2 separate regions of the Homo sapiens genome follow, and region 1 is linked to region 2. A link means that fine-mapping ties the variant in region 2 to the expression of a gene that starts in the linked region. Tissue or cell type: lung. Region 2 holds a variant in brackets; the other region holds the start of a gene. All regions are shown on one strand. Distances are between the middles of the regions.

Region 1 (2,911 bases), 33 kb after region 2:
GGACCTAGGGTGTCAAATTCCCCAGGACCTCCAAACACTTCCTCCTCTGCCCCTCTGAGAACAGCAATCCTGGTGCACACCCACGAACCTGTGGGGGTACCCACACCTCCACCTGGCCTCCCAGACCCTTGACCGCAGGGGCTCTCCACCCAGCCTAGCCCCTGGCACCAGAGCCCTGGCCCAGCTCCAGGTTTTGCATTCTGCCCTTGTGACCTGGCCAGGAGGTGGGTAACTAGGGCCAGTTTCTTCTTCTTTTTTTTTTTTTTTTTTTTTTGAGACCGAGTCTCACCCTGTTGCCCAGGCTGGAGTGCAGTGGCATGTTCTTAGCTCACTGCAACCTCCACCTCCCGGGTTCAAGCGATTCTCCTGCCCCAGCCTCCCAAGTAGCTCAGACTACAGGCGTGAGCCACCATGCCTGGCTAATTTTTGTATTATTAGTAGAGACAGGGTTTCACCATGTTGGCCAGGCTGGTCTTGAACTCCTGACCTCAGGTGATCCACCCACCTCGGCCTCCCAAAGTGCTGGGATTACAGGCGTGAGCCACTGCGCCTGGCCTACTAGGGTGAGTTTCTAAGGCAGGAGCTGAGAGTAGACATGGCTAGTAGGGTGCTCAGGAGGGCAGGAGGAGGGCTGTTTATGAGCCAGTGGTGGGAGAGAGTGTCATTCTAGTCTGAGAGGCTTTTTCCCTGTGGCTTCCAGCTCTGCCCTTTTCTTAAACACTCCTTCAGCCTCAGCTTGGCTTCAGTCCCACCAAGTGCAGTCTGACTCGTGGAGACATGAGAGATAGAGAGAGTGAGAGACCAGAGAGATCAGGAGACAGTGACTGAGAGGGACTTACAGGGAGATCAGGGAGAGAAGCAGAGAGAAGGAGAAAGCCCAGAGAGCATAAGAAATGAAGACCCAGAGACACCAAAGGAGGGAGAGACAGAGACACAGAGAGACAAAAAGATTCAGAGGCAGAGACTGTAGAGGCAGAAGCAAAGCAAGACACAGAGCATTTCAGAGACCCACGGCAAGAGACAGGGAACAGCATGGAGAACTATGAAAAAATAGGCTTCCAGAGAAAGAGAAAACTCCAGCTCTGGAGGGAAAGGGACTTAGCCAGGGCCACTCGGCCCATCAGTGGCAGAAATGGACTTGAACCCAGAGAAAAAGAAACAAGTGCCCCAAATACCAAAGGAACCCAGCCCCCATCCCTGGCCCATCATTTTGCGACAGCCCCATGACTACCCCAAAACCAGGCCCAGGCTCCAACTGGCAAAGCAAAAAAAAAAAACAAAGAAAGAAAGAAAGCTTTGCCCCATCCCAGGAGGGCCCCCAGGCGCAGCCCCCTCCCACGGCACCTTTCCAGCTGGCTGTGAGCCCTAGGGCCGCAGGAAAGGTATGGCAAGATGATGGGAGGGATTTAAAGTTCACAGCGAGAACAAGAAAAGTGGGGTTAAGGAGGAGGGTGTGGGCAGAAACAACTTAAGAACAACCTCTGCCCCACCACCCCCCAAGCACACCCAGAGCTGCAGGCTCTAGCGCATCCCAGCCAGTGTCTCCTGCAGCTCAGCAGGTAAAGGGCCCCGGTGAGGGAGGCAGAGAAGGAGGGGGTGTCTCCCAAGAGAGGGTGGGTCGCCAGCTCCAATCTCTGTCTCTGAGACTGGCTAGGAATCTTTTTTGCTGTTTCCTCTGAGAGCTCTCATGTCCCTGTTCTGAGCACTGGGATTTCTTTACTGGTGCTTCACCAAGTAGGTGGCTTCTCTCTCTGCAATGCAACCCCATGGTTGGCAACACTTGATTTTTTCCTGTCACTGTTTCTGCCTGTGCCCTTCCTCTCTGTCTCCGTCTCTTTCTCTCTCTCTCTCTCTCTTTTTTTTTTTTTTTTTTTTTTTGAGGCTGGAGTGCAGTGGTTCAATCTCAGCTCACTGCAACCTCCACCTCCTGGGTTCAAGCGATTCTCCTGCCTCAGCCTCCTGAGTAGCTGGGATTACAGGTGCCTAACACCACGCCTGACTAATTTTTGTGTTTTTAGTAGAGACAGGGTTTCACCATGTTGGCCAGGCTGGTCTCAAACTCCTGACCTCAAGTGATCCGCCTGCCTCGGCCTCCCAGAGTGCTGGGATTACAGGCGTGAGCCACCGTGCCCGGCCTCAGTCTCTCTTGGTCTGCCCTTTGCAGCCTACCCGTCTCTTTGTGTGGCTCTAATATTCCCTGCCTCTCTTATTCTCTCTCTCTCTCTCTCCATCTCTGTCTATGTGACTCTGTCTTTGTGTATCTGTTTCTGTCTGTCATTCTCGTCTCCCTCAGTCTCTGTGTCTAGCTCTGTCTCTCCCTCTCTCTGTCCCTCTTACCCTTTTTCTCTCCATCCTTCCATGTCCCTCTCTGTCTCTCAGTCAGTGTCCATCTCACTGTCTCTCCACTCAATCTCCCTTGTCTTTCTCTAGCTCTGTGTCTGTCTAGTTCTGTCTCTTTCTTTCTCTAGTCTATGTCAGCCTCTCTCTTTCTGTGATGTGCTCTCTGGCTCTCCCTATCTCTGTGTTTGTCTGTCTCTGTCCCTGTGTGTCTTGATCTCTCTTTATCACTGTCTCTGTATGACAGTCTCTTGACAGACAGGTGATGATAGATAGATAATAGACAGATGATACACAGATGATAGATTATGAAGATAGTAGATAGATGATAGATATAGATAGATAATAGATGATAGATAATAGACAGATCAATGATAGATGATAGAAGAATAGATAGATGATGGATAGACAGATGATAGATGATAGATAGATAGATAGATGATAGATAGATGTTGATAGATGTTAGATAATAGATGAGAAACAAAGAAAGAAAGAAAAAGAAAAAAGAAAGAAAGAAAAAGAAAGGAAGGAAGGAAGGAAAGAAAGAGTGATAGATGATAGATGGCTGATAGGT
Region 2 (2,911 bases):
CTTCATTTATGAAGCTTATTCTGCCAGAACATAAAATTTTTGGCTGACAGTACTTTTCTTTCAGCAGTTGGAAATGCCATTCTCTTCTTTTCTAGCCTGTAAGGTTTCCACTGAAAAGTCTGCTGTTAGTCTGATGAGTTTTCTTAATAGGTAACTAGATGCTTTTCTCTTGCTAATTTTAAAATTCTTTCTTTCTTCTTGACTTTAGACTTTCTAAATGTACTATTATGTGAAGTTCTTTTTGCAATGTATTTGCTGGGGCTCTGTAGCTGGATGTCTAACTCTCTTGCTAGATGTGGAAGTTTTCATCAATTACTTCCTAAAAATAGGTGTTCTAATTTTTTAAAATCTCTCTTCCCCCTTGGAAATACCAAAAATGCATAAGTTTGGTCACACTATGTAGTCCCAGATATCTCAAAGTCTTTGATGATTCTTTTTTATTTATTTTTCTTTATTTTGTCAGACAGGACATTTCAAAAGACCTGTCTTCAAGTTCTTAGATTCTTTTTTTTTCTTCTAATTTTAGAGATAGGGTTTCACTATGTTGCCCAAACTGGCCTTGAACTCTGACCTCAAGGAATCCACCTACCTTGGTCTTCCAAAGTGCTGGGATTACAGGCATGAGCCACTGCACCCAGCCATGTTCTGAGGTTCTTTCTTCTGCTTGGTCCAGTCTACTATTGAAGCTTTTGAATATATTCTGTATTCCCTTCATTGAATTTTTTTAGTTCAAGAGTTTCTGCTTGTTTTTTTTTTTAAGTTATTTATCTAGGTAAATTTCTCATTCATTTCCTGGACTGATTTTCTAATTCTTTGTATTGATTTTCAAATTTCTCTTGCATCTTGTAGGGCTTTATAAAATCAGTATTTTGAATTCTTTATCTGGCATATTGAGGGATTCTTTTTGATTGGGATCTGTTGCTGGACAATTGTGGTCCTTTGATGATGTCACATTTTTCTCCTTTTTCATGTTTCCTGTGTCCTTTCATTGATATCTGCAAATCTTGTGTAGCAGTAGCTTGTTCAAGTTTTTTTAATTGCCCTGTAGGAGAAAATTTTTTTCCTGAAAAATGTATGCATGTTGTTAGTTGAGTAGGATACTTTGGCTTTGATTCTGGGTGCCTATGGTAGTGTGATCTTAGTATGACTTCATAGGCAGTACCCAGGGTCACTGGTATCTTTGATTTCCTTGGTAGCTTAGAGTACAGTTATTACTTGAGATCGAGGAGAAATTTAGCTGGGTG[G/T]TGGATGCCAACTGAGCCCATCTTTGGGCCCTGGTGGTGGCAGCAGCTTGGAGAGTATGGCTGAGCCCCAGAGCAGTCTACTGGCTTTGGTATTAGTGAGTCCTGGGAGGCTGATTCTTGAGCTTCCTAGTGGCTTGCTTAGAGGAGTCATGGGAGTTGGGGGACAGGGATGTGGGCAAGTTCTCAGGCCCCTGGGAAGCACAACCTGGTGTGATATGGGTGATGGCAGTAGTGGTGGTGGAGCAATCCACTAGGACCCAGGCAGTCCATGTTGGTGTTGCTGGTAGATGCAATGGGTTGGGTGGGCTACTCCCCAGTCCCACAGCATCCTGTAGCAGGGTAGTGGTATTGACCTAAGTGTGCTTAGGAGAGCTTGTTCTCCCCTGTGCCTCCCCCATCTGGGTGGCGGCTACAGTGGCATCACCTCAGACTTGGCAAAAAGGGGGACAGAGCCCAACATTAAACTCTTATGATTGTGCCAGCTGTGGGCTTGTGACCAAAGAGGACAGGCCCCTCTCTGGTAAGCAGTATGGACAAGAAGTTGTGGGGAGTGGGGTCTGCTCAAGTCTCCCTGTCACAGCAGCCCATAGCAGGGTCGGGGAAATTGTCCCAGGTATATGTAAAGGAGCTTTGTTTCCCTGTCCCTCCTTGGCCAGGTGGTGGCTGCAGCCAGGTCAACTCAAACTGGGCCTGAGGGCAGGGCATGGCACAGTATTAAACTCTCAAAATGGTTCCTTGGGCCTGCAACCAGGGTAAGAAGCTGTGGGGAATGTGGTTCACTCACATCTCAGTCTCAACAGCAGCCCGCAGCAAGGCAGAAAGGACCCTCCCATGGGTGCCTGGGAGTGCTGGGTCTCCTCTATACTTACTTGAAGCAGCACAGCAGCAGCAACCATTTCTATAGATCTCCAGTATCCAGGTTCTCAAAACAGCACTCAGCTGAGGCTGCTCTAGGCTCAAATGGGATTCCATGTGGGTTCCATTTTCCAGGGCAATGTCTCTGCACAATCTTTAGGGAGCTCCGTATGTCAGGCCCAAGACCCAAGTGGGTTGAGGGTTTCTACCATAGCCAAGATCATAAAAGCCCATTTCAAAGTGTGGAGCCCTGGGAGTTTCTCTCTTATAATTTCCCCTCATCCAGGAGCCACTCTCAGCTTTCAGTCAATCCCCTCTCCTTACTCACTTCCTGTGCTTCCCTTCTTTTCTCTGTTGAATCCCTTCTCTTCTCTGATGAATTCCAGCATTCTCTCCTAGATAATCTGTTTAAAATGGAGTTCCTCTCCACGAAGAAGGCCATGCTACCTGCATCTGGTCAGCCATCTTGATCACCTTTCTACATTTAAAGAGACACAGCATGTTAAAAAAAAAAAAAAAATTAGTTCCCTTACGAATTGTTGTTTACCTAGCCCTCCCTGTCAAGAAGTGGTCTGCATTTTAAAGGATTTTAATAAGATGAAAAATATTCTAGAATAAATTTGCAGTGACCCCATCTCCCATTCTTCCTGTGGTAAGGAAGACCAAAAGCTATTTTTTTTCTTTTTTCTTTTCTTTTCTTTTTTTTTTTCTAAAGGAAACCCCTTTCTCCTAACTCCCTTCAGAATCTGCTGCTTTTTTTCACCCCCCAGTGATTTCAGGGAATTGGGTTGTTAAAAATGTTTTCTTCAGAG

The links. PIP is the estimated chance that this variant, and not a neighbour inherited with it, causes the effect.
Region 1: CYP2F1 starts here. The variant in region 2 is the best candidate, but not a certain one, in a credible set for the expression of CYP2F1 in lung (TOPMed, PIP 0.52).

What each region holds. Positions count from the first base shown.
Region 1 is chr19:41,112,934-41,115,844 of GRCh38, forward strand. It overlaps CYP2F1 (cytochrome P450 family 2 subfamily F member 1), which reads left to right and starts at 1,499. Exons shown (of 10, transcript NM_000774.5): 1 at 1,499-1,559.
Region 2 is chr19:41,080,148-41,083,058 of GRCh38, forward strand. No RefSeq gene overlaps it. Among named protein-coding and RNA genes, the nearest start is that of CYP2A13, 6.8 kb to the right of the region's middle. The variant G/T (reference allele first, on the strand shown) is at 1,245.